Regions from separate parts of the Homo sapiens genome. Here all the other regions are linked to region 1. Evidence: fine-mapped QTL for protein levels in blood plasma. Region 1 holds a variant in brackets. A gene starts in each other region. All regions are shown on their reverse strands.

Evidence for each region. PIP is the chance, under the fine-mapping model, that this variant and not a neighbour inherited with it causes the effect. Protein levels are from antibody-based Olink assays in UK Biobank. Linkage for the fine-mapping came from a reference panel and not from the study's own genotypes, which makes the PIPs less certain.
Region 2: CXCL13 starts here. The variant in region 1 is fine-mapped to the plasma level of the CXCL13 protein (UK Biobank, PIP above 0.99).
Region 3: QPCT starts here. The variant in region 1 is fine-mapped to the plasma level of the QPCT protein (UK Biobank, PIP above 0.99).
Region 4: CD5L starts here. The variant in region 1 is fine-mapped to the plasma level of the CD5L protein (UK Biobank, PIP 0.99).
Region 5: FCRL5 starts here. The variant in region 1 is fine-mapped to the plasma level of the FCRL5 protein (UK Biobank, PIP above 0.99).

The regions. Positions count from the first base shown.
Region 1 is chr17:16,947,019-16,951,507 of GRCh38, reverse strand. TNFRSF13B (TNF receptor superfamily member 13B) reads left to right here. Exons shown (of 5, transcript NM_012452.3): 3 at 2,525-2,770. Among named protein-coding and RNA genes, the nearest start is that of TNFRSF13B, 23 kb to the left of the region's middle. The variant T/C (reference allele first, on the strand shown) is at 2,635.
Region 2 is chr4:77,603,482-77,607,970 of GRCh38, reverse strand. It overlaps CXCL13 (C-X-C motif chemokine ligand 13), which reads right to left and starts at 2,151. Exons shown (of 4, transcript NM_001371558.1): 1 at 2,042-2,151; 2 at 136-268. The coding sequence starts at 2,105.
Region 3 is chr2:37,341,263-37,345,751 of GRCh38, reverse strand. QPCT (glutaminyl-peptide cyclotransferase) reads right to left here and starts at 1,122. Exons shown (of 7, transcript NM_012413.4): 1 at 901-1,122. The coding sequence starts at 1,020. LOC124907754 (a long non-coding RNA gene) reads left to right here and starts at 697. Exons shown (of 2, transcript XR_007086284.1): 1 at 697-2,025. RefSeq lists a silencer at 692-751.
Region 4 is chr1:157,839,501-157,843,989 of GRCh38, reverse strand. CD5L (CD5 molecule like) reads left to right here and starts at 2,182. Exons shown (of 6, transcript NM_005894.3): 1 at 2,182-2,316. The coding sequence starts at 2,289.
Region 5 is chr1:157,550,557-157,555,045 of GRCh38, reverse strand. FCRL5 (Fc receptor like 5) reads left to right here and starts at 2,531. Exons shown (of 17, transcript NM_031281.3): 1 at 2,531-2,714. The coding sequence starts at 2,684.

The DNA of each region.
Region 1 (4,489 bases):
CTGCCAGCAATAATTTATTAACATCATCTAATACTCAGGCAATATCCAGTTTTCCCTGATTGTCTTGAAAATTATTCGTTGCTTGCTGTTCTTTTTCATAACCTGTTCTTTTCCTTGATAGAACTTACCACAATTTGCTGTTTTGTTCTTTCATGTGTATGTGTTTTATGTCTGACTCAACCACTAGACTGGGAGCTCCCTGGCAGGGGAACCATGTCTGACTTGAGCCTAGCACAGTGCCTGACACATAGTAAGTCCTTCATGAATACTTATTGCGGGGAACTCAGAGAGGCTGAGTGACTCACCCAAGATCACCCAGTTTAAAAGTGGAGATGTCACAGCGACATCCTGGTTTGAACCCAGGACTCCGACTCCTAAATCATGACCTGAACCACTACCCATTAATGAATTAGAACATTCATTGGTTCATCCCACAAACATAGATGGAGTGCTCCAGCCCCATGGAAATAGGAATCTGCCGTGGCCCTTCAAAGACAGTGTCATCTAATGGGAGAAATGACTATGTGTCAAGGTAGAAAGCCACAGTTGGGAGAGACCCCCTTCAGCTAAAGGGCTGGGGAGCAGGGAGGTGTCCCTAGAGGAAGCACCATCAGAGGCAGATTGTTAAGAGGTCACAGAATGCGGAAATCAGATGGGCACCTGGAAGAAAGGGCACTATGAGCAGAGGCTCAGAGGAGGGAAACACAGTGGGGAGGACTGAGTCCCAGGCGGGGGAGGGGAGGGGTGTGAGGTCAGGCAGGGAGGGGTGTGAGGTCAGGCAGGGAGGGTCAGTGGGCTGGGGCACTCAGGCACCACCTGCAACAGCACCACCTGCAACAGGGGAGGAGGTCACAGAAAGCCCCAAGGACACCAATGCTGGGCTAACCCTGTGTGATGCAGAGTGGAGGTGTCAGTTTCTGTGCGGTTCAGGGGCGCCCTGGGGATAGGGCAGGGCCAGAGCAGGGGAGGTCACTGGCCCTATGTGGGCCATCTGAGTTTTCCCTAAGGTCCCAATTCCGTGATCTTTTAGTTCCTTCCTTTACTCTGTCAAAGACACAAGAACGGATCTGTTTGCTTTGTGAAGAGGCTCAAATGAATATTCTACTTAAGCTTTCCATTACGTGAGCATTTAGTATGTGCCAGGCACTGTGCTGGGCCCTACAACTCTGCCAACAACCCTACGAAGAAGTCAGTACTGTTATTTTCCCTATGTTGGAAATGAGGAAACTGAGGCACGGAGAGGCTAAGACCACACTGCCTGCAAGTGGTACAGCCAGGGATGGCCCCAACTGAAATTTGGTTCTGAAATTTGGGTTCTTATCCACTATCCTGCACTGTCTCCAAAATGTGTCCTTAAAATATATGTGTGAGCCACATATATTTTATTTATACATATTTATTTATTTATTTATTCATATTTACGAAGTCAGGACATCTCAAAAGCCATACCTTACTCTAAATACAAAGGAAACTTGCCTTTTTCACGTAAAAACTTCCATGTAGAAATATTCGGAGGCTAGACCAGATGCGGTGGTTCATGCCACCTGTAATCCCAGCACTTTGGGAGGCCGAGGCAGGCAGATCACCTGAGGTCAGGAGTTCACGACCAGCCTGGCCAACACGGCGAAAGTCCATCTCTACTAAAAATACAAAAATTAGCCGGGTGTTGTGGTGGTCGCCTGTAATCCCAGCTACTCGGGAGGCTGAGGCAGGAGAATTGCTTGAACCTGGGAGGCAGAGGTTGCAGTGAGCCGAGATCGTGCCATTGCACTCCAGCCTGGGTGACAGGAGCGAAACTCCTTCTCAAAAAAAAAAAAAAAATTAGAAATATTCTGAGACTTTAGATAAGATAATTGATTGTTCCAAATAGGTTTCTTTATGCATTCAAAGTTGGGTCCACTGTGCTCTCTTAAGGCAAGTGTGATTTGGCTTTAGTTTCCTTGGCTTCTGTGCCTTGGCACTGATACTTGTGTAAGCTGCTGTAATTCTCATCTAGTATTAAGACAGAAGAAACACTATTCATGTGAACTTTTCCACCTTCCTTCCAGCCCCCTCCCCCAGCTTGTCAAAGAGGATTCTGGCTTTTCCCCTTCTTTCCTTATGCTGATTTGAAATATATTTCTCCTTGATGAGGCTTGAAAAATGCAAGTAAAAGTCTTATGTAACAATGTAATCCAGATCTAAATTTTAAATGATAACTGAAAATCTTCATACGTTTGGAAACTAAGAAATGCACTTGTAAATAACCCATAGGTCAAAGAAAAGATAATAATGAAAAATAAGTGCATTTTGATCTAGGTAGAGGAAAAATACTACACATCAAAATGCAATGCAGCTAAAATAGTACTTAGAGGACAATGCATAGTCTTCAATGTGTATATTGTAAAAGTACTTGGCTTACTCTGGAATTGCCTTCTGGAATTTTACTGTATTTTTTTTTTTAACTTTGATGTCCTTTGTGGTCAAACCCAGAGTTCCTGCTAGTCTGTGTCACCCAGCAGTATCATGAATTTCTCTCTCCCAGGGTCACTCAGCTGCCGCAAGGAGCAAGGCAAGTTCTATGACCATCTCCTGAGGGACTGCATCAGCTGTGCCTCCATCTGTGGACAGCACCCTAAGCAATGTGCATACTTC[T/C]GTGAGAACAAGCTCAGGAGCCCAGTGAACCTTCCACCAGAGCTCAGGAGACAGCGGAGTGGAGAAGTTGAAAACAATTCAGACAACTCGGGAAGGTACCAAGGATTGGAGCACAGAGGCTCAGAAGCAAGTCCAGGTAAGCCACCCAAGGCAAACCTGCATGGTGTCACGCAGGGTGAGAAAGCGTGGGAGGCCTGATGCCAGGCCTAGAACAGGAGAGTCCACAATGCATGAAGCCCAGAGTCCAAGCAAATGGCCAGAAGCCAGGGAGATCATCCCAGGATAAAAAAAACAATGTAGGCAACATTTCCAGAAGTCTGTGGACAAGAAGAAAGCAGGAGAAAGGACCTGCCGTGTGAGGAAGAGCCTTGCACTAGAGGCTGCCGAGGCTGTGCCAGTCATTGAAGCACAGGCACAAGTAAGCAGCAGACCCACCTGTGTGAGCACCTGAGCAGCAGCCACCACCTGCCCTCCACCAGTGCTGCAGACTCCATTTATTTCTATTATTATTTTATTTATAATTTCAACTTTTTTTTTTAGATCCGGGGGTACATGTGTAGGGTTTGTTACATGGGTATGTTGCTTGATGCTAAGGTTTGAGGTACAAATGGTCTTGTCACCCAGGTGGTGAGCATAGCACCCAATAGGTAGTTTTTCAGCCCTTGCCCTCTCTCTCTGCCTCCCCCTTCTAGTAGGCCCCAGTGTCTGTTGTTCCTGTCTTTATGTCCATCTGTATTCGACACTTAGCATTTCACTTATAAGTGAGAACATGTGGTATTTTCTGTTTCTGCATTAATTCACTTAGGATAATGGCCTCCAGTTGCATCCATGTTGCTGCAAAAAACGTATTTTTCTTTTTATGGCTGTGTAGTATTTCATTGTGTATATTTACCACATTTTCTTTATCCAACCATCGATGGGCACCCAGATTGATTCCATGTCTTTGCTATTGTGAATTGTGCTGTGATGAACATACGTGTGTATGTATCTTTTTGGTAGAACGGTTTATTTTCCTTTGGATATATACCCAGTAATGGGATTGCTGTGCTGAACGGTAACTCTGTTTTAAGTCCTCTGAGGAATCTCCAAACTGCTTTCTACAGTGGCTGAACTAATTTACATTCCACCAACAGCGTATAAGCGTTCCCTTTTCTCTGTAGCCTCACCAGCATCTGTTGTTTTTTTACTTTCTAACAATAGCCATTCTTACTGGTGTGAAATGGTCCCTCATTGTGGTTTTGATTTGCATTTCTCTGATGATCAGTGATGTTGAGCATTTTGTCATGTTTGTTGGCTGCTTGCATGTCTTCTTTTGAAAAGTGTCTGTTCATGTCTTTTGCCTACTTTTTAGTGGGGTTATTTGTTGTTTGCTTTTTGAATTGTTTAACTTCCTCATAGATTATGGATATTAGACCTTTGTTGGGTGCATAGTTTGCAAACATTTTCTCCCATTCTGTAGGTTGCCTGTTTACACTGATAGTTTATTTTGCAGTGCAGAAGCTCTTTCATTTAATTAGATCCCACTTGTCAATTTTTGTTTTTGTTGCAATTGCTTTTGAGGACTTAGTCATAAATTCTTTCCCAGGGCCAATGTCCAGGATGGTATTTTCCAGGATTTCTCTAGGATTCTTATAGTTTAGGGTCTTACATTTAAATCTGTAATCCATCTTGCATCTATGTTCCTCAGGGATATCGGCCTGTGGTTTTCTTTTTTTTGTTGTTGTGTCTTTGCCAGGTTTTGGTACCAGAGTGAAGCTGGCTTTCCAGAATGAGTTAAAGGAGACCCTCCTTGATTTTTTGGAATAGTTGCAGTAGAATTGGTACCAGCTCTTCTTTGTGCATCTGCTAGAATCTG
Region 2 (4,489 bases), not on the chromosome of region 1:
ATTATTAGTTTGAGAATTTTTAGCAACACTCAAGTAAATCTCTTCGACATTCTTGAGTAAGACTACTGTATGGTAACATTTGATCTGATTTCATTGGGAGAAGGAAATCTTATTTATTTTTCTCTTGAAACTTACATGATTTCTTTTCTTGGACAACCATTCCCACGGGGCAAGATTTGAATTCGATCAATGAAGCGTCTAGGGATAAAGACTGAGCTCTCTTGGACACATCTACACCTCAAGCTTGTGTAATAGACCTCCAGAACACCTGTAAGTAAACACAGAATCAGTTATTTTAATCCATTGGCATGTAATTCATAACTAGAATTTAATTACTAATCTTTCATAACGTGCATTTGAAGACTTAAAAGTTTCAAGTCAGTGCTTCCACCCATATGTCTTTAGTTTGTATATTTCTGCTTGTCTTGGCTTGAGTATTTTCAAATGTTTTCTACCAAAACTTTAAAAATAAAGTTAGCTTTTAGGCCAGGCACAGTGGCTTACACCTGTAATCCCAGCACTTTGGAAGGCCAAGGTGGGAGGATTGGTTGAACCCAGGAGTTTGAGACCAGCCTGGGCAACAAACGGAGACCCCATCTCAGAAAGCAAACAAACAAAGCAAAAAGAAAACAAAACAAAAATTAGCTTTCAAAAAAACACAGCAATTTTGAAATTTGTGATAGTGTTATATTTGTACTCAGGTGATAGTCCACATAATAAAATTTGAGAACAGCCTCTGTAGGGACTTACAACTCAGTTATAATTAATGCAATATAAAACCAGTGGATTATCTTCACTCCCAACACATAAAAACCGAGGACATGACCTGGCTCAAGAGTCCTGGGAGCAATAACATGCTGGAACAGAGTTTTCTCTATCAGACTCTCTGCCATCCTCCCCTTTCCTCTCAGAAAATGTCACAGACGTTTTTGTTTGATATGTTGGTCCTCTGTCTGGGTTGCAAATCATTACAGAACAAAAGGCAATCATAAAAATTCAAAAGTCTTTTTATTTAACAAAAGCAATTAATACTGGATGGGTACCATTAGTATCCATCTCATGAATTTTAATGGGATCTAATGAAATCTAAGCCAAAGACATTTATCAGATCTTTTCTATCCAGCCTACTACTGTGCTTGACATACATTTATAAATAAAAAGGCTCACCTCTCAAGGTGTGTACAAGTTAGTAGGGGAAACAAGCAAACAAAAACTAAAATACCACAGAAGGTTGTATTACGCTCAAAATCTAACATGCATGCTGAGAACAGAAGATGTACTAAGAGCTACCTCTGCCGGGAGCCATGGGAAAGCCCCGTGGAGAATGCAAGAAATTAGGGTTTTGAAGAGTGAAAATAACATGTGAAGCAAAATTAAAACTGGGGGACAAAGCTCCTCTGTGTTTTAAGAACAAAAATTTGGCCTTCTAAATCTGAGCAGAAGGCTTCTTTCTGCACATATCCATTTCTTCGGCCACATAAAAACTTACTACTTCAACTGGATATTTATCTATTGACACAAAGATAGCTGCCCCACTTAGACATGGAAGTCTGCTTCTTTGCAGAATGTGTGTAAATACCCCTGGTGTACTGACAGTGGTGTACTTGATGTCAGATCTAACCATTTGGAGTTACATGAAGCATGTTCACTGCAAGAGACCAGTAGAGTTCAATAATCTTTAAACCCTGTATAGGGTTTGGTCAGAGTGGGTAACATTGAGAGGCAGAACAAAGAAGAGCTACATGTAAAGAATTATATATAGCAGGAGCTGAATCAGAAAAAGGCTGGGAATATATAATTCACATGAATATTGGACTTGTGGTATCTCTTTTTGCTATAAATAAAAATCTTAACAATATAAATACTTCCAGTTTTGAAGAGTTAAATTCCTAAACACCTTACTTTGAGAAATCTAGAAGGAACAGAGCAGTTTTTTCCCCCTTTAGTCAGACTTCCCTGCGGTTTTTAATCGAAAGAAAATTGAAGTGGTTAAAGACTATTTCTGTTCAACAAACAGTGAAATGTAAATGAAATTTCTCACCTTGGACTGGAGAGAGGCTGCTGACCAGCAGCATGAGAAGCAGAGATGTCGAGATGAACTTCATTCTGTCTGGAGGTAGAGTTCAGACTTGAGCTCTGAGTCCAGGCTGTGGGTTTGCAGTACCAGAGACTCCTATTTATTTATACCAGTAAGGGCCCTCCCACTGCCTTTGTCTCCAGTAGGTCAGCTGCATCATCAGCTTTAAAAGCCCCCAAATATTGCTGAGCTTGCTTTTTTAAAACTTCTCTTGCAAACTTTATAAATTTGTTTCAGAGCACTATAATAAAATATTTCTTGCAAACATGGACTATAAGTGCCAGAGACACTGGAGAAATCTGAGGGTGGGGAGAAAGGATAATCTATCAGCTTGGAAGCTCCAAAGCACTGTCTTTAGTAGCGCTATTGGTGATGGTGGTTTTGAGTGCTTCTCTCAGTGCAGGGTGAGCCAGGTTTCTCAGTGGCATTAGATATATACTCCATGACATTGGGGACTCCGTCGAGCGCATCACGTCCCTAGCATGTGGAAGGGATTCCGGCCTTTGGTAGGTGCTCAGTAAATATTTGCACAGCAAATGAATGTCTCTTTATATACAGATCCTAACGCTGATTATGCTATTGATTTTCCTACCAGTCTTTTCCATCTCTTATTTTGCTATCTGAAATATATGATTACTTATATAATCTGACCATCATGGAATTCTTAGAAGGGGGCAGTAGGAGTCCCCTGCTTTGTGTGCCTGTGTCTGCATGAAGGGAGGGAGACAACAGCCTTGAGGAAGAGAATCTCTCTGGCTGTCGTGTGCAAGTCCATGAGCTTGAGAACCATGTGGCAGGGGAGGGAGTCATTAGAACTGCATTAGAGGGTGAACCCCATATTACAGTCTGACATAAACATATGTGAAGTTAGGTTTTGATCCCACCAACTAGTCCATGGGGACAATCAGCCCACAGCTTATCCCATTTTCTAGAAGCTCTTTGATTAAAAAAAAAGTATGTAGACTGGCTAGTCTGGCCTAGAGTACCACTAAACTGCCCTGGAAGTGGACAAGGATGATGTATCAAACCAGACCCACTGATCTGCTAAGAAATCAGAGGTTTGGGCTTCCTGGCGCGATTTCCTAAACAATTTGGTTTTTGCTAATCAATTAGCATTGTGGATGTTTAGCATCCCAGGTGCCTCAGTATTCATGGGGGTAGAAGTGGAGGAGTGGTAATGCCACACAACCTTCACACAAAAGCAGTTCTCCAGTCAGCCTGAACGCAGTGACAGGGCACTCATTGATCTTGAGGCAGGTTATTCTATTGTTTGGCACTTCTAGTTGTTACGATGTTCTTCCTTATGTATATGTGAAAGCTGCTTCCCTAGCAGTTTGTTTATGCTTGTGTTGTGATAAGGGGTTGAATTTTGTCCTAATTCAACCCCTTATCACAACACAAAACAATTCTAAACAGTCTTCTATATGATGGCAATCCAAATATATGAAGGCAGGGTGTGCCAGTTGTGTCCTCTGCAAAGCAGATGCTGAGATGGACATTGGAGTAAAAGAAGGTTATTCAGAACAACTCCTGCGATAGACAGAAGGAGGAAGGAGGCTGAATTGGGCAGGGGGAGCCTCAGATTGCAATGCTGATCTGGTGAAGTCTACAACAGCTCAGTGGGGAGCTCCAGAGGAAAGACTGTTTATTAGAGGGGCCCATGGTGGGCAGAAATGTTCAGACTCTTCTACCCCAACCGTGCTCGGTCCTTAGCTGGGCCTCCTCAGAAACAACATGGTCTCTGGTTGAAAGCTGAAGCAGAGCCCGAGGAGGTTATCAGTAGAGGCTGTCAGCTAACTGCACTCCTTGCCGCTGGCCAGCAAGTTATTTCTTTAAGAGAGAGTTGAGTAGGCCACCTTTGAGTGTCACTCAGGGTTATAAACTAGAGGTTAACAGCACAAAGTCTGAGCTCAGCCTGGCAATGACTTTGGACAGGTCACTTAATTTCTCTATGCCTCATATTTACCACTTTCCACATGAGGATAATAGGAATTCCAAAGGGTTGTTTGGAGAAGAAAGCACCTGGTATATGTAGAGGGTTCGGCCAAATACTGGCATGTAGAATGTATTCAATAAATAGCCTGCCTGTCTGTCTGACTATCTAATCTGTTTGGGAAAAAACTGCTCCATTGCTTCTACATTTCTCAAAGTGAGGTGTTTAGGGATTTAACTCTTCAATCCATCCACCACCCCCATCCATCCATCTGTCCATCCATCCATAAAAGATCTTACTAACTTCCACTCCAAAACCCACTTCAAAAGTAAATACTCCTATTTCTTTGAATTGATAACAGTTTGAAACTCTCTCACCATCTTGGTTTACCTTTTTGAAACCTGTTGATCTTTTCCATTGTTCCTCATAAATTATAACTACCTTCCCTTTTGCCTCTCCATCACACTCTCTGACTCACA
Region 3 (4,489 bases), not on the chromosome of region 1:
CCATTCTCCTGCCTCAGCCTCCCGAGTAGCTGGGATTACAGGTGCGTGCCACCACGCCCGGCTGATTTTTTGTATTTTTTAGTAGAGACAGGGTTTCACCATGTTAGCCCTGATGGTCTCGATCTCCTGACCTCGTGATCCACCCGCCTCGGCCTCCCAAAGTGCTGGGATTACAGGCGTGAGCCACCCCGCCCGGCCGAACCCATACACTTCTTACAGAGGGAACTTGCAAATCACTTTTATCCTAAGTTCCTTATATGCGATTTCTACCTACAACTAGATCCATTTTCTCTGAAAATAGCAGGTACCCTCTTTTAAGTGGAGGAAAAAGGCTTTTGAAGTAAGCAGGTCTCCAGTAAAGGTCCTTCCTGCCGAGTTGCTCCTTTTAAAAATCTAAAACAAACAACACACATCCGTCCTGAGACTGTAGGGACACTTCAGCGCCCCAGCAGCATCCTTGGATGAAGCAGCGGGGGGGCTGTGGGCACACCCCCAGGCGCACCCCGCACCCTAGCGGCCCCGGAGCGCCGGCCCCGTTGCCCTCCAGGGTCCCGAGTGGGGGGTGGCGCCGCGATGCGCCCTCGCCTCCCGGCTCAGCAGCCGCCGGCGAGACACATTTCCTGTGCCTATCAGCACCCCCATCAGACCGCAGCCCAGGAGAGGCCAGTGACATCACCCAGCCCCCCTGGCGTCTCCAGAACAGCCCCGGACTGGCCGAGGCACCCCGGCGAGTATGCAGAGCCCCGACTCCTCCGGGCGCCGGGTGGGGCGCCGGTGCCTGGGCTGGGGACCGTGGCCCTGCCCCGCCTCCCGCTCTGCCTAGGTAGGGCTGACCCGGCCAGGGGTCCTCGCATCGGACCAGAGCCGCTCAAGTACAACTACGCAGAAACAGCCCCTCACCTTCTCCTCTGGCCAGGCTGAGGCACTCGGACTGACCCCCCTGGATGCCCAGGGCAGGGCGGCCACCAGCAGCAGCAGGTGGAGGGTGCCCACGACGCGCCGGTGTCTTCCGCCTGCCATCTCTCCGAGTCTGTCTGGGAGCGGGTTCCCCGGGCCGCTGGCGGTCACGAGCCCGGGAACGCGCGTCCTTCGCCTTCCCTCTTCTCCACCCTTGGGTCGACTGCGCCCGCCTTCCCATCGCCCCCGGGTAGCCTCCCGCCGCGTCGCGCAGGCTGCAGCCCTCCTACCCCGGACCTTCGCAAACCCCGGGGCTGGGCGGCCCTGGGTGACAGACACAAGCTTCTGAACCCAAGCTAACAAAGGCGGCCACTTCCTTCTCTTGGAGAAGATGAAAGGAAGGAAGCAAGAGACATGGAAGAGCCTTTTTATGATCTCCAATGCCAAAACAGGGAACAGAAAAGGGAGGAAGGGTTCACCAGACCCTGGGGAGTTATGAAGTGTTTCCCACAGCTCCTAAAGAAGGGGTGGACAGGGAATCGACGTCTGCTGAACACGGCACCAGGCACCGTCCTAGGTGCTTGTCCAACCTTCCCGGATTTAATCCACTAATCCCATTTTACAGACGGGGAGACTGAGACACCCCCCCACCCCCCATAGAAAGCCTGGACTGGAACCCACAAGCAAAAGTATGACAGTGGATCTTTGCCTTTTCTCTTTTTTCTCACAAATAGTTGCCTTGCCTCACATCATACTCTCAAATTGAAAAGGATGGTCAAAGTAATTATCTGAAATAATGAGATCTACAATATTCACAGCGGCTCTGAAGGAGTCATCTTCTCCAAGGCATGGCCCCAAAAGGAAAAGCCAAACACAATTCTATTTACTTTGTAACATCAAAGGTCATTGTTATCCAGATAATCCTAGGGCAGGAAAACATTTCAGTTTTGTCTGTAGGTTTCTGGTCCAAGTTGTCAGGACAGTGACTTTCACCAGCCTCTTTTGCTTCCACAGTGAGGATCAGGGCTTGGCCTGCTCTGAGTCATCTCCCAGTAACATCTAGTTCCCAGAAAAATCAGAACAAGGATACTGAAGCAGAACCATTTCACAGAGAGCAAAGATTTGAAGGTAAGGAAGCTGCCAGAAGGCCCACCCACTCACTCTGTCTTCCCAGCCTTGGCTATGAGTTTTTAAAGAGAGGGCTTGCCTGGAAATACACTGTTCTGCCCTCCTCTGGAGCTGTAGGAGAAGACAGGATGTAAATAACTCCTTTCCTGGTGTACAGATTTGCTAACCCTATTCATGTCTGAGAGTTTTGAGTGACAATTTAAATCTCCAGGCTTAAATAAAATTAAATACACCTTTATTAAACCCACAGACAGTTCTGATCATCGGACCCCCTTCAGAACTTTCTACTGGCTCCAGTTTCAGAACTAAACCACTGTCACATTCCCCAATACAGCTCCTCTCTTGCTGCCTGGGTCAACCTTGAAATAGTGCATTTCCTGAGTGGCTGGGTAATAAAGAGCCTATTTGCTTTTTTTTACCCTATTACCTTTATGTCTTTTCACAATATGGTTCCTATAAGAAAGAGAACGTGGAAATAGCAAACCTAAATGAAACAAAATGTGAGAGGTACTATCATGCTAAGTATGAGCAATTCAAAACAAGAAATATAGAAATAAGCTAAAATGTCAGCACATAACGTAATGATGATTTTGTTTCCTAAGTTTCTCCAATTTTGGTTATATTTAAGTCAATAAGATGTTCTTACAGTTTGGTATCTACAGGAAGCAGACTCTGAGACAAGAGTTTAACATGCAGGATGTGTATTAGGGAGTGCCCTTGGGACAAACCCCTGTGGGAGGAAGAAGGGGAACAGGAGAGAACAGAGGGAGAAGTTAGCAGCAAAGCGGGCCCAACAACCTCACCCAACTCCATGGGAGTCCTGAAGCTGAAAAAGACGGTCAAAGTTGTCCCATACTGGGCCAAAATGTCTGGGGCCTTATCTCTGCACCTCCATGGAGTGATTTCCTGCAAGCGGCTTTCCAGCCAAAAGAGCTTGACTGCTAGAGGCTGTGGGCCAGCCGGCCTCCAACAGCTGGAGCAGGGTCCTTCCCTGGGGGCAGATCTGGGCAGCGCATCTCCTGTATCCACCACAAACGTATTGTATCTGGTACAAATCTAAAACATTCCACATAGCTAGTGAGACTGATTTCAATACATTGGTTTTTTTTTTACATGTAAGCTTTTCTGCCAACTTTCCAAGAATCTACAAATCCAACACCACTATGTATGTATCACTTCATTCCTTATGCATATCTTTTCTAGTGTCTTACACACTAAATACCCTTTTCCTTTCCTTCGCTCATTCTTTTCTCTCTTCCTTCATTTGGGAAACGTTTAGAAATACCTTATATCTGCTATTTTTGCCCTACTTCAACTTTTCCTTTCTTCAAACTCTTCCCATGGAAGATAACTAATGACTTTTCCATTTTAATTAAAGTTTCAGACCCTGTTTTTCATCATGGAAAAAATGTGTTGTATATACAGTGATAACACTGTTCTCAAGTGGAGAAATTTTTACCTCCATTATAGTATAGATTCCATACTGTGATGTGAAGGAAATGAAGGACCCAATTGCCAAAACAGATCTTCTCCATGAAGCTGCCATGGCAGGATGTTCCTACACCCAGTCCCACCTTTAAAGTGGCGCCATTAGATCAAAGTAGTAATGACCAGAAGGTTCTATTAAAACAATAGTTTTCAAAAGTGTGGTCCATGGATACTGGGGATTCCCCAAGACCCTCTTGGCTGTCTCCAAAGTCAAATCAACTTTTATAATAATACCAAAACAAGATTCATTTTTTCTACTGTATAGACTTTGCACTGATGTTGCAAAAGCAATGATGGGTAAAAATGCTGGCACCTTAGCAACTGTCAATACAGGACACAAAACTGTACTATTGAGGAGGAAAATCTATACTTGTAGTCATTGTGTTTTTCTTTCTTTCTTTCTTTTTGGAAGGAGTTTCACTCTTATTTCCCAGGCTAGAGTGCCATGGTGCCATCTCGGCTCACTACAACCTCTGCCTCCCAGGTTCAAGCGATTCTCCTATCTCAGCCTCCTGAGGAGATGGGATTACAGGCATGCACCACCATACCCTGCTAATTTTTGTATTTTTAGTAGAGACAGGGTTTCACCATGTTGGTCAGACTGGTCTCGAACTCCTGACCTCAGGTGATCTACCTGCCTCGGCCTCCCAAAGTGCTGGGATTGCAGACGTAAGCCACCATACCCAGCCATCTTAGTATTTTTCACTGCCACGCATAAAGAAAAAAAAAAAGAAGAGGACGATAAAAGAAAAGAAAAAGAGCCAGTTTCACTTAAGAATGTCATTGATGAAGTAATAAAATTGTTGTTTTACTGCCTTCTGAAGCTGTCTCTCCATGAAGCTAGATTTTAAATCTAGCAGGACAGAGTACAGGAGGAGAGAGAGCTCCTCACGTCTGCGTTTTCATCTCATGGAGACCACCAGCTCTGTGTGGACTCCTCCTACCTGCACTGCATCCTGGAAACTCTCAAAGCAGT
Region 4 (4,489 bases), not on the chromosome of region 1:
CTCCAAACACAGTAAGTTTTAGGTACGTTCTTCTACCTCCTATTGAAGTCCTCCTCTGCTCTCTCTGGTGCAGTGGTCTCTTAATGGGTCTTAATGACCCATTACTGGTCTTCATCCCAATTCCTGCTCAGTGCTGCAGCCAAAATACACACCTTAAATGTGTAACACCCTTCGGTGGCTTCTTGTGTCCTGTGGGATAGTGTCCTTCCTGGCTAAAAAGCTTCCTTTTCCTTTCTTCATGTTCTCACGCCTGTTCATAAAATACTATATTGGGAGGAAAAGTTTTCTTTTTCTTTTCTCTTCTTCTTTCACTCAATTTTCCACATGGAATGGGGAAAATATATTTCTGAATCATGAAGCCTGTGTTTGCTAATGGGTTTGTCTGCCCTCAAGCCACACAAAGTCTTTTCTTTTCCAAGGGTAAACTCTGTTGTGCACATCTAGCTCCTGAAGAATGGAGGTAAATGCATAAAGCCTTAGATCCCAGTGGCAGTCTAATGTAGTTCATCAACAGTAAAGATGATATTTTGAACCTTTTCTGAATTCTGTACCTATTACTGTGTCACTTCAGAATCTAGAGAGGGAAGGATGTGAATAGTTAGCATTTACAAACTCATTCATGATATACCCTCCATTATCTGGCTCTTGTTGCTACTTGCATATCATCTAGTGTCTTTACCTTTCAACATCAAGAAGCCCTGGCCCCTGATCACTAAGCAGGCTGTAATCCAGTCATTCCAAACTACCTGTGGTTCCTTGAATAAGTAATGCTGTTTCACTTGTCTGCATATGCATAGCAAAATCTTTTCCTATTCTGATTCTCCACTTAACTCATCCTAAACCCCTGCTCAAGTATCATCATTGCTGTGAAGTCTTCTCTGATTAGCTCCAAACATAGTAACCATTTCCTCCAAGGTTTCATTTCTTTTTCTTATTTTAGAGATGTGATCTCACTCTGTCACTCAGGCTGAGGTTCAGTGGCCTGATCATAGTTCACTGCAGCCTCAAACTCCTGGGCTCAAGCTATCCTCCCAGTTCGGCCTCCCAAAGTGCTGGGATTACAGATATGAGCCACCTCGCCTGGCCTCCAAAGTTTGTTATACTTTTCTCTCTTAACAGTGGTTTCCACATGTTATTGCAATTACTAGACCATATATTTTTACAGTGCAAAACTATCCCTTGTTCCTTCATGTACTGCCTCCACCCATCACATTGCCTGGCATTCATGAGTGCTAAAAACTTTTCATTGAATACAATACTAAGTAAATGAAGAAATGTGGGATTAAAAATGAATGCCTACAATGAACCAAGCTTTCTGCTGAGTTACCTGAATATTACAAAGAAGCAAAAATTATTACTGTAGAGGAACAATTACCCTGCTTGGAATGCAGAGATTATGTCAGCATACAAAATTGATTGCTTGATCAATCTGGAGTAGAATAGCTCATGAAGCATAGCTATACTTAATAATATAGCAAAGCAGAGGGGCCTGAGAGGGTCTTACTGCTTAATCTCTGTCCATCATGTCTTAGACCTACAGACAACTTGAGTTCAATGATTATGATGCCCCTCACCTCAGGGATCTGTTTCCATCCAGCTTCCAAAGATGGGCATACACCAGCACAAGCATAGAAAAATAACAAATCTGTATATTGGACCCTCTGCTTAGCAGTGAGAAAGCAGGTTTGAAGACAATAAAGCCAGGCCTGTATGTGGAGATTGGCACCATGACCCTGGATTATGTTTTATGGGATATGCCTCCAAGGGCAACTCTGCATTTATCCCATGGCCTCTGGCTTCCAAATTTTCTAGGCACTTCCCTCTGGGGTAAAGGAATCAAAATTGGCTTATTTCCCTTGCAAACCATCCTTGGCGACTAAGTACTGCCTTGTCTTCTACTGAGAGATGGCCATATTTTTGGCACCTGCCTTTCCTTGTGGGAGGTGTTTCCTCTGTTTACATAGCAAAGGGGCTGTAGGAGAGACAGACGGAGCTGGACTTACAGCAGAACCAAGTCATGATAGCCTGTTTCTATTTTGTTTTCAGCATTTTTCCGCCAGTTCTGGCCACCTCCTTTCCTCTGGAACATGCTGATTTCAGCAAGTCCAGCTCTGTCAGCTCTGCCCCCCGAGTCTATTGGTTTCTGATCATCTGATAATGCTTTGCCTGCACTCAGGACCTGTCTTTGTCCCTCCTCTTAACATACTTGCAGCTAAAACTAAATATTGCTGCTTGGGGACCTCCTTCTAGCCTTAAATTTCAGCTCATCACCTTCACCTGCCTTGGTCATGGCTCTGCTATTCTCCTTGATCCTTGGTGAGTATCTCTGCACCTGTTGGTTTAGGCTTCAGAGTTTTCTGGCACTTTGATTAGGAGAACTTTCTCCCCGCCAACCTGGAACAGATTTAGATGTTTTTCAAGGATGAGCTTCTTCCTCCTTTTTACATTTGGTAACTATTCTAATCCTTAAAAAGCCGCTTAATCCATACACATTTGTAATTCACTTTAACAGATTTTTTTCTATTTTCTTATATTTGTAATGACAGAGTCATGATAGTTTATCCCATTTCTCTTTTTACATAAGTGTTCCTAAATGTACTATTAGTAAGAAGACAAATGAATGGGCACCGGGCAGCAGCAAGTAGAGCCAGGAAAGGAAGTAGAACTGCAAGACAATCACCTTTCATTGATCATATTGTCTGGTTTCCTCTGAAAAGTGTTTCATATAATGTTTTTCTAGTTTTCTTCAGTTTCTCATTGCTTAGAGTAATCTAGAGATTAACCTAGTTAATCTGGTGATTGTGGAGCCAAGGAGACCTGGATTTCAATCCTGCCGTTTTGATTTCTTAGCGGTGTGAATTCGTAGGTTACCATACCTCTCTGAAATTTTGCTCTCTCATCTATGAAGTGAGGATAATATTATGTTCCTCAGAGGTTTTTAGGAGTATTTTTTTTTATAAGATAACTAATATAAAGCATCTAACAATGCCTGGTAAATCCCTATGCTAATCAATCACATCCACTTTTATGTCTTGATGATCTAGTACATCACCAAAGCCCACACAATCCTCTCAACTGGACACTTTTGTGTTCAATGTAAGGTACTGACCACATCTTAAACATCCATGCATCCCCCACATCACTCAACGGCTAGTCCTGCCCCTCATGGATATACTACTGGGTCTTCCAGGCTCATGTGCACTTCCACCTGCTTCATGAAGCCTTTCTGGCCTGTGCCTTCTGCAGTTACCCACCCTACTGCAGAGCTTCCAAGTCACTTACTGGCTATATCACGTTTGCACCTGCATATCAGGCTTGCCATGCTCACTTTCCTTCACATGTACACATGTTGGGTTGGGGTTATGCAATGATTCCCATATGTATAATATAACCTTGAGTTTTGGATAGTTGCAGAAAAGGCCTCATTGAGCCTGAGAGTGGCCACATTCTGAAGATTAAGGGAATGAGGGTAATGAGAGGTTATTTGGAAACCAAGAAAAGAAAATATTCCAGGATAAACCACTGAACTACTTGAATCTGCCTGAAAAACTGTAGGCTGGAGGTCCAAAGATATTTGCACCTTCTGAAAAATCCTATAAGATGGGGGTGGTGGGTGTTTTGCAGTTGAAAATGCATAGGCCTCAGGGACTCCTGGAGGTTACAGGGCCCAGGACTCTCTACAGCATTAGGAGGGACCTTATGGAGAAAGGAGTCCAAATATACAGAGATCCTGCAGGAAGAAACCCCCATGTTTTAAAGACAGGCTGGTGCTGGAATCTGGAGGTTTGGAACTACATATAGAGCTACTTCCTGAGCTATTCATCTAAATCAGCTAAAACAGCCTGCAAGCTGATAATGAGGTTTGTATTTTTAAATGGTAGGAAAAAAGCAAAAGAGAAATACTATTTTATGACACATGAAAATGACAAAAAATTTAAATTTCAGTGTCTAATAAAGGTTTAATGGAACATAGCCGTCCTCACTTGCATACATATATGTGGCTGTTCTCAGGCTACAATGGCAGAGCTGAGTGGTTGCAACAGACACTGTATGGCCCACAAAACTGAAAATATTACTGTCTGGCCTCTTACAGTAAGAGTTTGCTTACCTGGTCTAAATGCTGTGCCGATGAACACAGGCATATCCTGCCCCTTTGCCCTAATTTCTGCTCTGCCCACCATGGCATCTTTACCTCCACCGGCCAGTGCATCTTCCCAGTGGCCTCCAGCACTCTTTCCTGTTGAGCCAAGAGGCTGTATCACCACACTTTTCTTCAGGCAGTAACAACCAATCAATCTAATTGACTAGAATAGAAAACCAATCTATCCACCATCACGTGTGAAGAAAGCAGGCTGAACCAGTTAGCTGTGGTGGAATTGGTCTCTGTGATTCCTAGCCAGTGTCCCTGTGTCCTTGGAGGATGGTCATCCCAGAAGAAGAAGGTCCCAACAGGACTGACATTGGAGGCTCTGCATCTACCACTCTTGTC
Region 5 (4,489 bases), not on the chromosome of region 1:
AGGCCAAGGCGGGCAGATAACTTGAGGTCAGGAGTTTGAGACCAGCCTGGCCAACATGGTGAAACCTCATCTCTACTAAAAATACAAAAATTAGCTGGGCATGGTGGCAGACACCTATAATCCCAGCTACTTGGGACGCTAAGGCAGGAGAATCGCTTGAACCTGGGAGGTGGAGGTTGCAATGAGCCAAGATCGCACCAGTGCACTCCAGCCTGGGGGACAAGAGCAAAACTCTGTCTCAAAAAAATAAAAATAATGGTCAGTAAAACAAAAAAGTATTATATTTCTATATACCAATATACATTTAGAAAAAAATCTAATGATGTCACTTACAATATCATAAAAAACATATCAATAACCTAAGGATAAACCTACCAAAAGATATACTTTCCAGAGGCAAAGCTATAGAAAATTACTGAAAGAATGTCAAGTTAACCTAAATAAATGAGGGGATATTGTATGTTTATGGATTGGGAGACTAAATCTTTTCTAATTTATACAAATTAACTTATAAATCCAATGCAATCCCAGTTATTAAAAATCTACTAGGCTTTTGGGGAGAGAGGGGACAGGAATTGACAAGGTGATTTTTAAATGTATAGAAAAATTCAAAAAGCCAAAAATAGCCATAACAATTTTGAAGAAGAACAGCATTTTATGACTTAAACTATCAGTTAATAAGAGTTATTATAAAGCCACAATAATTAGAAGAGTGTGGTATTGGCATGAGGATAGACAAAATAGACTAATGGACAAGAAAGGAGTTTCCAAAAATAGACCTACATGGCTTTTTGTTTTATAACAAAGGTGAAATTGCACTGTACTGTGGAAAAAATCAACTTTCAATAAATAGGGCAGGATAAATTATCTGTATTTAAGTTAAAAGTGAATATAAACACTCAAACTGTACACAAAAATCAATTGCAATGCTCTTATAAATATAAAATAAATGGTAAAAAATAAAGTTTCTAGAAGATAACCTGGGAGAGTATCTTTATGATCTTGGAGTAGACTAACTTTCTTAGAAGGGATGCAAAAATCTCTAACCACAAAGGAGAAGACTGATAAACTGGACTATGTCAAAGTTAGAATGGTTGTTCATCAAAAGGCACTATCAATGAGCAAAGAAGCAAGCCACAGATTGAAGGAAGACATTTGCAATACATATATCCAACAAAAGGTTTATATTCAGGGTTTAAAATAACTACAAAACAGGAAAAGAAAGACTGAAAGTTAAGAGAAAAATGAGGAAATATTTGAACAGAGATTGCACATAAAAAGGATATCTACATCACCAATTAGACTATGAAAAAATGCTCATTCTCAAATTCACCAGAGACATACAAATTAAAACCACATTGAGATAATTCTAGCAGAACGGCCAGATTTTACTAGATGACAATACCAATATCAGCAAGAATTTTAGAACAATGATAACTCTCATACATTGGTTGGTGGGTGTGGTGGGAATTGGCACAACCACTTTGGAAAATAATTTGGTAATACTTCCTAAACTGAATATATGCATACCTTATGAGCCAGGACTTCCACTCCCAGATATATACCCAACAGAATTATGTGCGCATATGCCCCAATAAATGTATACAAGAATGTTCATAGCAGCACTATTTGTTTTAGCACCAAAAGTAGGTAAAGATTCTGTGTTCCCTTTGAAGTTCTCCTCTTAATCTCTATTCACCCCTGTAACCCCTGTATGGTTTTCTTGCCTCAGGGTGCAGTGGGTCAGATGTGACATAATATACCTAAGGTGATGTGCATTTGTAGATATAAAATTAAATGCCCCCTTAGGAAGACCAAGGTATGGGCCCAGAGAGAAAGGGTGAGAAAATATTTGAAAGAAAGAAACTGGCACTCCTCGTGGCAGCTAATGTCTTAGGAACCTCTGTTGACCAGTATACCAGGATGGAAACTTGACTTTTAGAAAATCATAAGAGCTATACATTCACCTGGTAATTTTTTAAAAAATCAAACGGTACAGAAATACATAAAATAAATTGTGTTCTTCCCACCTATTGCTCCTCAAACATAATCAATATTTTTGTGTGTACTTTCCAGGAAAAGAAGAAAGTATACTTAAAAGAGTTGATGTACACATATATCCTATTTTTTATATTTACCCAATGGGATAATACTACAAAACCAATCTATATCTCACTTTTATTCTCTTCACATCAAACAAGGTGGTCTTCCCTTCTTGGCATGTTCAGATTTACCTTATTCTTTAATGATTGCTTGTCACCATACGGATGAATCAGAATATTCTTAAACAGTCCCCATATCATGGTTTTTTGTTTTGTTTCCAGTGTTTAGGCAATAATGAATGCTACAATAAACGTTCTTATAGTACTCTCTTCAGATACTTCCTTCAGGGTAATTTCCCAATAGCAAAAATGTAGGGTCAAGGGTATTTGATTTTTTAAAACCTTAACTTTTTTTTTTCTTTGATCATCGGGTAGGAAACTGTGATTAGCAGCTGAAGACGGGTACTCCCACTTCCTTTTTTCAATTCACTAATGCATTCTGCTCTTTTTGAGAGCACAGCTTCTCAGATGTGCTCCTTGGAGCTGGTGTGCAGTGTCCTGACTGTAAGATCAAGTCCAAACCTGTTTTGGAATTGAGGAAACTTCTCTTTTGATCTCAGCCCTTGGTGGTCCAGGTCTTCATGCTGCTGTGGGTGATATTACTGGTCCTGGGTGAGTAAAAGGGCTCACCATGGGCCCTGGGTGGGATCGGGACAGCTTCTCTCTCCACCGCAGGCCTGGTCCTTTCTTGGGGCTCAGCCCCTGCTGAGAGACTCTCTCCTACATTAGGAGACTGTATTTTTGAACTTTACTCTGTAGCTCAGGGCTTTCTCTTGAGGCTGAAGAAAATGGCCACAGCTGGAAGGAATTTTCAATCTTACAGAGTAGGAAACCACAATAACCACAACAATTAAAATTTCATTTATTTTTTTCTTTAAAAAGTACTTCTTAAAGTCCAGAGAATGTTTCATGTTTGTTTGTTCATATTGTCTTACTCATAGAAGAGCCCACTCTCCTCTCTGCAGAGGAGATGTATTTATTCCTTGTATGACAAGGCCAGATCCTGGTCCCCAGCATAAGAGGCAAGGTTTCTAACGGGAAAGACAGGTCTTTCTCTTGTACATAATTGCAAACCACTGCAGCAATTGGCTGATTAAGAACATGGGGTGGAGGAGGTCGCAGAGGCGTAGGTGGACAAAGCAAGGATAAATCTAAAGCATATGACTTTCTCTTTGTCCCTGTGGGTGTACGTAAGTCTCTATCAACTCATATGTGCGAACTGGTTGATTTTTACTAAAGGTTAAATATTATAATTAAATATGTTTATTTATTTGTTCAGCAAATGTGTTTAGTAATATCTATGCACAGGTGCTGAGCAATTAGAGTCCATAGGAGACACTACGTCTATGTTCTGGAAAGTCATGACATAGAAGGGCTCCCAGCAAGGCCAATGTACTTTCAAGCAGCTATGCAACAAGCTCCCAGTTAAATAATTGTCCAGGCAAAGTTACCAATGAATGCTGTAGGCAGATAATAAACTGTATTCAAAATAGCTAGTAAAGACTTCATGAAACTTAGAGGTGAGTAGGAGCTAGAGGAGCAGAAATGGAGCAGGCGTGATATAAGAAAAGAGGACCTCACAGTTGGAAGGTGCATGGACTATAATTCCTGAAGTAGGAATACATCTCAGTGTGGCCCCACACAATGTGGGTAATGGCCAGGTCCTGAGCATGAGAGGGCAAAGTTTATAACATGGGCTCTGGGGTCAAACAGGATCTAGGTTCAAACTTCATCTTGCCACCTACTGGCTACCAGATTCCTGGTCTACAAAATGCAGTTAATCCTAGTGCTTACCTCACAGGATTATTGACATGGTTATATGAAATAACCTACGTAAATGCAGACCATATAGAAACCACTCACAAAAATATTAGCTTCATTTAAAACAATGCAAAGATGAAGGAAGCCAAAATATTCAGGTGAATGGTGAATAATTTGTTGTTCTCAGTAAAACACTTAAGTTTGGATAAGTCTCCAATAGCCTCATGTGGACAGGGATGATTTGTCTCTCACACACTCCTGGATTTCTATTGCCTTGCTCTGGAGTATGATTGGCATTCCAAAAATCTGTTGAATAAATAAATCAACCCATATGCAGAATACCTACTCAATTGATAAACCTGCCAGTTTTGTGTCCTCTCTCTCTTCATTACCCATTTCTCAAATCTCTATCCTTCTATTCCTATATTATTAACCTAGTTCTTTAATTAATTCATTATACAACACAAATATATTTAGTGAACATTAAAGGAATATCTTTTATATGCCATTCACCGTTATAGGTCCTGGAGGATATATGGTGAACATAAGGAAAGTCCTAGGTCTCATAGAGCTTGCATTATAGAGAAGGGAAAATAAACAAGCAGATAATGAAGATAATTTGGATA